Linked DNA regions of Homo sapiens: region 2 is linked to region 1. A link means that fine-mapping ties the variant in region 1 to the expression of a gene that starts in the linked region. Tissue or cell type: whole blood. Region 1 holds a variant in brackets; the other region holds the start of a gene. All regions are shown on one strand. Distances are from middle to middle.

Region 1 (5,149 bases):
TCTACAAGAAAAATATAAACACGACTGCCAAAATAAAGATATAAAACAAAAATTCAAAAAGAACAAATGTGAATGACTGTAAACATGTTAAAATGTCTAACCTCACAACTTTAAAAAGAAATTAAAATTAATACAAGAAGGAATATCATTTTTTGCCCTTTCAAAATGGGCAAATATTTAAGAAACTGGCAATATTAATATCCAGGATTGACAAGTCAATGGAGAAATGAACTGTTTCATCCACTGCTGGTAGCCATGTAAGGAGTAAAAGCTCTCTGAAAATCAAGTAACACAAACCAATGTTGCAAATGTGCATCATTTTAACCCCGAAGTGCAACTTTCAGAAATTCAGCCTAAGAGAGCGAAGTGTATATAAAAAGATATTAATTGCATTATTTCCAAAAACTATGAATTGAAAACAACCTAAATCCCCAATCAGAAAGAATCCATTAATTAAATCTGTAGTAATATTTAAAATGTCCCCACATACTGTTAAGTAAAGAGACAGCAAGAGATTGAGATCATAAAATAGCATAGCATAGTTTCTGTATTCCAGAAACACACTTTGGTAGATATATTTACTTAGGAAAAGAGGATTGTATAGAAAAAAGTGATCATTGGAGAAATTATCTGTTTATTTTCTATATTGTCTAAGTTTTTTACAAAGAGCCTGCAGTAATTTTAATCAAACGGAATACTATGGCTATTTTCATTGGCTAGAAAGTAAAAGCGTAAATCGCTGGTGTCCGCAGTTGGATGTCTGGGCAAAGCTGACCAATTGAGCCCAAAGTTGGAGTAGTAAATCCCCAAGGGCAAAGCCTCCATTTCCAAGTCTGCTTCTGACCCCTTGTGCTTAAGTCTTCATTTCTTTAAATGACATGGAAACTACATTTTTCTTATGGAATATGTTGCCAAGGAAGCAGAGGTTCTCTAGATATTCCATCCACACACACGCTGCATGCCCCACACACATACACACCATACCACTCAGAAACTTCCACACATGCAATAGACAACACACATCACACACACACATACACACACACACACACACACACACACACACACACTAGAAATCCTCACTAGCGGGCACCTCCCATCCAGTCAGACCCACAGGACACCCATCTCAACAAATGCTTAAGTTGAGCTCCAGTCCAAAGTCTAATCAAAATCCCACATGAAGACTTAGCAGGATTTTGAACTGGGCAATGTCCCTGTCATTAGCTAGCCATTTCTAAATGCAGAGACCAAACCCACCAAAATATTCCTTAATTCTCCTTCTTGATTCTTTATCTACAGAGACCTCAGCCCACAGGGCTGGGAGGTGGGAAATCCAGGAAGCCAGTTCTTCTGGGATGAGGCCTGGACGAGCAGTCAGAGTACCTCATCCCAGCTCCTCCCTGTAAGACTCTGTGCATGTTGTTTCCACTGTCTGGGCCTCAGTTTTCCCATCTGTGAATGGGATTATTAACCCTTATGCAAATCCTTCTTGGGAGAATGGAATGAAGCATGGCAAAGCCCAGATGCACCTACGGTGCTCCTGTAGACATCCTCTCCACCTTTGAGGGAGGGTTGACCTCAGGACTAGTGGACAGCACACATGAGAGCTAGGTGTGCCCACTTCCACCAGCTATGGCAGGGAATGCCTACCCCCTTCTTGGCATTCCCCACCCCAGCCCAAGCTAGGGCCGGCCTGGTAAACGTTGTCTTCTTAGCCAGCTAACTTAAGCACCTTCCAGGGGCTCTGAGCTCTGACTAGTATTGAGGCAAACGACCACAGAGGGGCCAATCAGCTCTTCTCCGGTTTCCAGCTGTGGGGACTGGAGAGAAATCAATATGCACACAGCTCAGATGGGAGTAATCAAAGCGCCAGGGCTGATGCCACCCCCCTCTTTCTCACAGAGAGGTTTTAAGCCAAGCCCAGCCCTCCTGCATGGACTGGCCCACGAGGAATTCCTGTAACTCCAAGACCAGCAAAAGGAGGTGGCTCAGACTCCCCAATGCCAGCAAGGGGAAGGAGGGAGTGGAGAGCAGATGTTCTTGGCCCAGGCTTTAGACCAGTGGTTCTCAACCCCAGCTGTGCATTGGAATCATCTGGGGAGCTTTTAAAAGCACAGATGCCCAGGGCCCACCCTCAAAGTTTCTGACTTAATTGGCCTGGGGTTCAGCCTGAGCACAGAGATTTTTAAAACATCTCCAGGTGGTTCCAAAGTGCACCAGGGCTGAGACTCACTGAAGTGGGTTCATTTTTTTTTTTTTTTTTTTTTTTTTTTGGAGACAGAGTCTCGCTCTGTCACCCAGGCTGGACTGCAGTGGTGCGATCTCAGCTCACTGCAACCCCCGCCTTCCGGGTTCAAGCAACTCTCCTGCCTCAGCCTCCTGAGTAGCTGGGACTACAGGTGTGTGCCACCACACCTGGCTAATTTTTTTGTATTTTAGTAGAGACAGGGTTTTACCGTGTTGCCCAGGCTCATCTCGAACTCCTGAGCTCAGGCAATCCGCCTGCCACCTCTCATCGGAATCTTTCCCCCAGATCCAAGGGAAGATGGTTTTCTTCCTGCTACACTAAGGGTCAGACAGAGAAGGCATGCTTGGGCATCCCTTGTAAGACAGGGACTGTATTTTGTTTATCACTGTATCCCCAGTGGCCCACCCATGCCTGGCACAGATGAAGGGCTAAATGAACACTAGTGGAATGAAATGTGTGTGAATGAGTGAATGAATGAATGAATCCCATTGCCTCCCACCTCTCGAGTGCCCTAGAACTTTCAAAGTGTGGTCTGCAAACCAGCAGCTTTTCATGACCAGGGAACTTGTTAGAAATGCAGATTATCAGGTCCTGTCCCAGATCCACTGAAAGAGAATCTGCATTTTCACAAGATCCCCAGGTGATTCATGTGCACGTGACCATATCATGAGTTCTCCCGTATATGAGCGGTTCTCCACCTTCACTGCACATTACAACTACCCATGAAAGTGTAGCTAGCCCACCCATGATCTCTGGGAAGTGCTTGTTAAGTGCTCCC[A/C]GGTGATTCTGATGTGCAGCCCAGGTTCAGAACCTATGTACCATAAGTCCCTCTGCCACAGCAGCCTCTGTGCAGGCTCAGCCTTGACTCCAGCCTACCTGGGAGACCCTCTCTTGACCATCGTACCCCCTCTTGGGATAAAAGCCAACCTCCCTGCAACCCAGGGACCACCCACTTAGCTCTACAAAGACCTCTGGGACAGACTGCCCCGTTCAAATCCAACCTCCGCTGCTTCCTAGCTGAGCGGCCCTGAGCAAGTCATTCAACTCTCCCATGCATCAGTTTCCCCGTCTGTACAATGGAGCTCATTGGGGAAAAAAATAAACTTACTACATTGGGTTGCATGACGATTCAATGGCTTAATTGATCTAAAGCACTTAGAACAGTGCCCCTTCCCTGAAGTTTTCTTGGCTTCTGTAACAGACTTCCGAATAAAAGAGTTTAGATAAAGAAAGGCCAGATTAAGAACCTCAATCCTGCAAACTCTGCTTCCATGAAGAGAGCAAATGAGAAGAAAAGATGGTGATAGTGTAGGGAAAATTAAGACTGAATGAAAAGGCTTAGCCATCTAGCCTATTTTCATTATTTGTGAAGAAAAATCAGCACCACTGAGTCCTTGGGGTCCCTAGGACTGGAACGATGGCACTAGAGGGAGGACTAAGGTTAACAAGGCCAGTTCCTCCCCCAAAATGCTCCCACTCCAGGAACACAGGCCTGCCTCACTGTGCTCAGGACAGGGGCAGCTCCATTCCTCCACAGCAGAGCTTCTCTGTGGATTCTTCCGTGACCTACACAGGGCTGCCTGGTTTCCAAGCCCTTCCCTAGGGCTCCAAACTAGGGTGTGTGTGTGTATGTGTGTGTGTATGTGTGTGTGGTGTGCTGCATGTGTTGTGTGAGGTGTGATGCGTGTGTGTGTGCAGCCCAGGTTTGGTCTGTGGGAGGGGTGTGTTATGTGGTGTGTGTGTGGTGTGGTGTGTGTGGTGTGGTGTGCATGGTGTGTGTGGTATGTGTGGTGTGTGGTCTGGTGTGTGGTGTATGTGTGGGTGTGGGTGTGTGTGGTGTGTAGGGGTGTGTAGGGGTGTGTGTGGTATGTGGGTGTGGTGTGTGTAGTGTGTGTGGTGTGTGGTGTGTGGTGTGGGGAGTGTGGGGGTGTTGTGTGTAGTGTGTGGTGTTTGTATGGTGTGGGTTGTGTGTGTGTGTGGCGGGGGGTGTGGGGGAGTGTGGGGGGTGTGTATGTGGCATGTGGTATGTGTGTGGTGTGTGGCATGTGTGTGGTGTGTGTGTGGTGTGTGGTGTGTGTGTGGTGTGTGTGTGGTGTGTGGCATGTGTGTGGTGTCTGTGTGTGGTGTGTGTGGCGTGTGTGTGGTGGGGTGTGGGGGGGTGTGGGGAGTGGTGTGTGTGTAGGGTGTGTGGTGTGTGTTTGGTGTGTGTGGTGTTTGGGTGTGTGGTGTGTGTGTGGTGTGTTGGTGTGTGGTGTATGGTGTGTGTGTGTGGTGTGTGGTGTTTGTGTATGCGGTGTGTGTGGCGTGTGTGTGTGCGTGTGTGGTGTGTGTGGTGTATGGTTTGTGTGTGGTGTGTGCGGTGTGTGTGTGTGGTGTGTGTGGTGTGTGTGTGTGGTGTGTGTGGTGTGTGGGTGTGTGGTGTGTGGTGTGTATCTGTGCGTGTGTGGTGTGTGCTGTGTGTGAGTGTGGGGTGTGTGTGTGTGTGTGTGTGTGTGTGTGTGTGTGTGTGTGTGTCGGGGGAGGGGTATACGCAGTTTCCGTGCGGAAAGATGGTGTCTTTCCTTCACAGGGCTGCGCGGGCACCCATCCCCGCTGCAAAGCGCCCGGGCCAGGCGCGGCTTGCTCCGGGTCGGGGCGAGCTCGCTGCCCTCTGCGGCAGACAGCGATGCGCGCTCCCCGCCCCAGCTCCCGGCTCGCCCGGCGGCCCGCGCGCCCTCCCGGTGCAGCATGCGGGCGCTGTGACGTTCTCGGATAAATGCCGTGTAACTGTGTAGGCGAATGAGAGCTAAAAATAAGAACGGAAAATCTATCATTAAGGTATCATTGCGCCAGCGCAGCTATTTGAAGGCTCCCATGGTCCCCGGCGCCTGCGTTTGAAGCCCGCCTTCAGGCTTTGGGGGG
Region 2 (5,149 bases), 220 kb before region 1:
GTGGTACTGTGCAAAAGACTGAGTGGGAATGAAAGAGTAGAGACAGGAATGTCAGAGGAAAGTACTGCAGGGACCTGGTTAGAGAGTGGAAAGGAAGATCGAAAGAAGAGCATGGCATCCTTTAGGACTAGGTATGAAGAAAGAGACAAAACCAACCCTGAGACTTCCAGACTGGGAGCTGGATGGATGATGACTCCCACCACCAGCCTAGACAGAGGCCAATGAAGAGGAACACGCTAGGGGGTTCAGCAGCCCCGAACTGCTAATGTTCACTCACCTGGGTGAGAGCTGTGACCCTGTTCCCCATGTCTGGGAGAATGGGAGGCTCATCGCCCACTTGAAAGTCAAAGTAGACGGTCTTGTGAGAGAAGGTGGAAAACTCATTACTGAAGCAAAACTGATAAACGCCCTTGACTTCAGCCCGGTACGTGAAGCTGTCGTACTGCTTCTTCGTTTCTCTGTAGATGGTGTTCCCCTGGGGGTCCTCTACATAGCAGTCAACATCGTAGTGGCCTCCAGTGATGACCTGACAACCATAAAAAAATTGCTGTTATCAAAGGAGCAACCACCACTTACCAAATGCCAACCAGACACTGTGATCAGACTCTACAAACATTTCTGTCACTTCATCTTCAAAACTTTCTAAGGCAGGTGCTACGCCACTTCTCATTTTACTAAGGCTGAGCAAGGTTAAATAAATTGGCTGTGGTCACACTGCTTGAAAGTGAAAGGGCTAAGATTTGAATCTATGCCTGCCTGACTCCCAAGTTTGCTCTGCAGGGTTTCAATGAGCCTAATCCTTTCCATTTTACAGAAGAAGAAACTGAGGTTCCAAGGTTAAGTAAATTCCCTAAGGTTACACAAGAGAAAGTGGTGAGATGAGATCTGCCTTGAGAGCTTTTGGTTCCAGTGCCTAAACATTTACCTATTGCACTATTCTGAAGCATGAATGAACATACCCCAGGATAACTGCTCTTCCTGAGATGGTGCTGATAAAGCTTCCCGAAATCAAGAGCAAGATGAGGAGGGATGTCCAAGAAACTATTCCAATGCAACTAGATGCCACCGATTCTTTATCTTTGTTCAATACTTAACACAAGACACACAGCAAATCACTGATTTAGGGCACTGCCACTCATTAGCCATGTGACCCTAGACAAGTTACTTTATTCTCTGAGGATATGTCTTTATCCATGAAGTGAGGAGTCAATAAGTTATCACACCTAAAGTGTTTAGCACGGTGTCCAACATAAATTTAGCAAGGGCCCCAAAAGTGCCAGCCAATTACTGGACAATCGTCAGACTGCAAACTAACCCCCTGGGGTTGCAGTGGAGATGTGGGATCTGATTTGGGGGCCACCCTAGAGCATGCATGCTGCACCTCCTGCTTCTCCGTTCCAATAACAGACAGGTGTTCCCCCTCCCCCCACCAGCAAGGGTCATTCTTGGCTTGCTGAATGGGTCAAGTAGCTATTAACAATATATTATTAATGACTGAATGCAAGGAGAAGAAAAATATTGATCGAAGTATTCATGGAATTTCTGAGTGTCAGCGGTGGAAGAGTCTTTGGGAATCATTTAGTTCAAACTCTCCTTGTAACATAAGAAAAATAAGACCCACATAAAGCAAAATCTCACAGGTAGGCAATGGCTATAACCAAGATCCATCAAAGGACACGGTCAATGGCCTCCATCTGCTTCCAAATTTAAATGGCCTCTTTGTCCGGACAAAAGTTACTAGTCCTGCTCAGCAAGCTTTGCAAAAAGCAGTGAGTATCCTGTTGCTAAGTGTGTTTAAACCCAGGCTGGACACACTTTGACAAGGGATTTCCGCCCTGGCAGTGACCAGATGACATCTGAGGTCCCTGCAACCACAGAATTATCATTCTTTTTGTCATTGCACCTAGGTTGCCCATGTTAACCCAGTCACAATTTGCATGTTGTCCACAAAGACCTGAAAGTGGACAAATCAGTGACTGAGACTACCACATAGAAGTTGTCTCCAAGCGCAAGCTTCCTTCAGTGCCTCTAACCACAGAGGAACTGGTCAAATAGCTTGCCCCCATTCCTGCTGCCCGTGGCCCCTCATTTCTGAAGTGCCTATCAGCATGCGTCCACAAGCAGATAGCTGTCTGAGTATGATGCCCACTTGGCCCCCAACCCTAGACCTGCTCACTAAATATCGGGGCAGACTACTCACTCAAGACCTGCTCCTGTCACCTGTGGGCCACGGGATCTCTCAAAGGAGACAGGAATACAGGAACTGAGCTTTTCTAAGCCATATGGCAAGAGCCAAGTCTTGCAGCCACACCGCTCCTTGTAAACACCGCCAGGCCTCAATGGCTGCACTGATCCCTCCTTTCCAAAGTGCCCATTCTCACTTCTGCTGCCCTCACCTCACTCCAACTTTAAACGCTGGAGAGGGGAGGAATAAACTAAAACTATGAGCCCACTTCCTCTTGCTGCCATTTTTCAGTACTCGAAGGCACAAGGTGGTCTAAGAGACTGGGGTTAGAGAGCCTGTGTCCAGCCGATCAGAACTGCCGTTGGTTAGTGTCTCGGGGGCCTGCGGATATCTCTTTGGCCAGCTCCCCAGGCTGCGGGATCCGCCCTGGCGTCCCCATCCCGGGCTCGCACCTGCGGCGCTGACTACCTCCTCGCTGGCCAGGCTCGTCTCGGGTGGGCCCTGATGACCCAAACCTTCCTCCTCACGGGGAAGTCAACTGGTCTCCGGGGACTCCCACCCCATGCAGCCTCCCTGTAGCCTGTGGCTAATTCGAGCGCCTCCAGTCAGGGGCTAGCCAGTGTCCAGGTGAGACCTGGGAGTGGAGGGAGAAGGGAGCGCTGCCGGGCGCCCGGCCTCACCTGGTAATCCAGGGAGAACTTCACGCCCTGCTCCACCTCCTCGTGGAAGCACTGCTTGGCGTTGTCCGGCAGCTCGAAGGTGAGCTCGGCCCCGCAGGGCTGCTCGGCCCGGCGCAGGAGCAGCAGCAGAAGCAGCACGGAGGCGGAGCGCGGGACAGTGCTGCCCATGATGCTCTCGGTCCCGTCTCGAGGGCCGCGGCTCGGGCGCTGCGCCCCCGGCGGGCTGGGGCGACGACTACCGACCGGGTCCTAGGAGGATGTAAGGGGATAGACGTGGCACCAGCGGAGCTCTGCGCTTCCGGGAGGGCCGGCGGCTCAGTGCGCAGCCGCGCGCTCAAAGTGGGCCCGGGCACCTTCCGCCCGCTGCGCGTGCGCGCTGGCCGCGCTGCGCCAGGGGACACGCCCCCCCCACCCCCCCGCAACGCCTCTCCCGGCTCGGAGGGTGGGTCTCCGCGGAGGGGAGGTGGGGCTCCACCTAGCGCGCCCCTACCCAGAAGAGGGAGAAGCCCTCCCCGCTGTTCTGCGCGCTCCCGGACCCGCAGGGCTGAGCATCCCCCCAGGTCGACCCAGGTCCACCCTCCAGCTGCTGCAGCACGAAGCACGTGGGATTTTACTCCCTCTATAAGGCTCCGCTTTTGACAGGCTCTGTAACTTCAGTCTCACACTTCCCTCGAGAACCAGTCTCCTTGTCTTGAAATGGGTGTGCCCAAACCTAACATCCACAGTAGTTAGGGAGCTAGGTGAAAGATAAGGGAACGCTGGGAACCCGATTAACACTCCTTTCTTCATTCCCATACCCTTCCCAAGGTGAAAGAGTGTGCGAAGGGGGTGGGGAGTGGGGAGAGTAAGTAAAGACCCATCATTACACCTGCTCTGGGAAAAACACGAGCGTGCTCACACACAAACGATCTCATGAAAATCCAAGTAAAGTCTCGCAGCGACTTCAGGTATATTTTGGCTGTCAGGCTCGTTGAAAATTCTTTTTGCACAAAACTGTCATTTTTGCACTTTGACTTCTTAAAAGCTCTGAAAGCAGATAAATTGGTTTACTGTCTTACCCATGACCACTGACTTAAGATTCTTTTGTATAATCGTAACTATAGGTATAGTTTTATATTCACTGTGATCCAATAAACAAAGAGAAAAGACGTAGATTGTGATGTCGATACTCAATAAATAACTTATTCAGGAGAGCATTACTAGACGTGGTATATCTTGACTTCAGGAAAGAATGTTACTGCCCATATAGATTTCCGCTGGCCACATTCACTATGGATGAACACGCTAATGTGTGAAAGCAATCTGTAGGCTTGGAAATAACATGCATGCATAACATAGTTAATAATATTGACTGGCTCAGTGACAGGCATGGAAGAGGTGTTTAGTAGTGTCCCTTAAGCTTCCTTCCCTGGCACGGTCCTATTTCACGTTTTTTTTTTTTTTAGGAACTGATAGAAAACATGGAAGTAATAATCATCTGATCTAGATGAACTAAGTGGAGAAATAAATGACAGATATAAAACCACAATTGGCCGGGAGTGGTGGCTCACGCCTGTAATCCCAGCACTTTGGGAGGCTGAGGCGGGTGGATCACGAGGTCAAGAGATCGAGATCATCCTGGCCAATGTGGTGAAACCCCTTCTCGACTAAAAATACAAAAATTAGCTGGGGGTGGTGGTGCGTGCCTGTAGTCCCAGCTACTCGGGAGGCTGAGGCAGGGAGGCAGGGGTATTGCTTGAACCTGGGAGGTGGAGTTTGCAACCTGGCGACAGAGCAAGACTGCGTCTCAAAAAAACAAAACAAACAAACAAAAAAAAAACACGATTGCCCTGGCACAGGTGGAGTGCTCTGCTAAGACTAACAAAAAGAAATTTCGGGCTGGGCACCATAGCTCATGCCTGTATCCCAGTATTTGGGGAGGCTGAGGCAGGAGGATTGTTTGAAGCCAGGAGTTCGAATCTAGCCTGGGCAACATAGTGAAACCTCGTTTCTACAAAAACAAACAAACAAAAATTAACCAGGCATGGTGGTGTGGGTCTGTAGTCCCAGCTACTTGGGATGCTGAGGTGGGAGGATTGCTTGACACCAGGTGTCTGAGGCTACAGTGAACTGTGATTGCACTACTGCACTCCAGCATGGATGACAAAGGGAGACCCCATCTCTAAAAATCAAAATAAATTCCTCCGGATTAAATGTTAAGTCTTACATTTAAGTTCCAAGAAAACACCTGCATAAGTTCAGGGGAGGAGCTGACATTGAAGAAGCTCTAGTCAGAGCATGCAGG

Evidence for each region. PIP is the estimated chance that this variant, and not a neighbour inherited with it, causes the effect.
Region 2: TMED3 starts here. The variant in region 1 is fine-mapped to the expression of TMED3 in whole blood (INTERVAL, PIP above 0.99).

Annotation. Positions count from the first base shown.
Region 1 is chr15:79,091,481-79,096,629 of GRCh38, reverse strand. No RefSeq gene overlaps it. Among named protein-coding and RNA genes, the nearest start is that of RASGRF1, 3.3 kb to the right of the region's middle. The variant A/C (reference allele first, on the strand shown) is at 3,027.
Region 2 is chr15:79,309,134-79,314,282 of GRCh38, reverse strand. It overlaps TMED3 (transmembrane p24 trafficking protein 3), which reads right to left and starts at 3,171. Exons shown (of 3, transcript NM_007364.4): 1 at 2,866-3,171; 2 at 278-526. The coding sequence starts at 3,033. RefSeq lists silencers at 2,998-3,067, 3,278-3,327.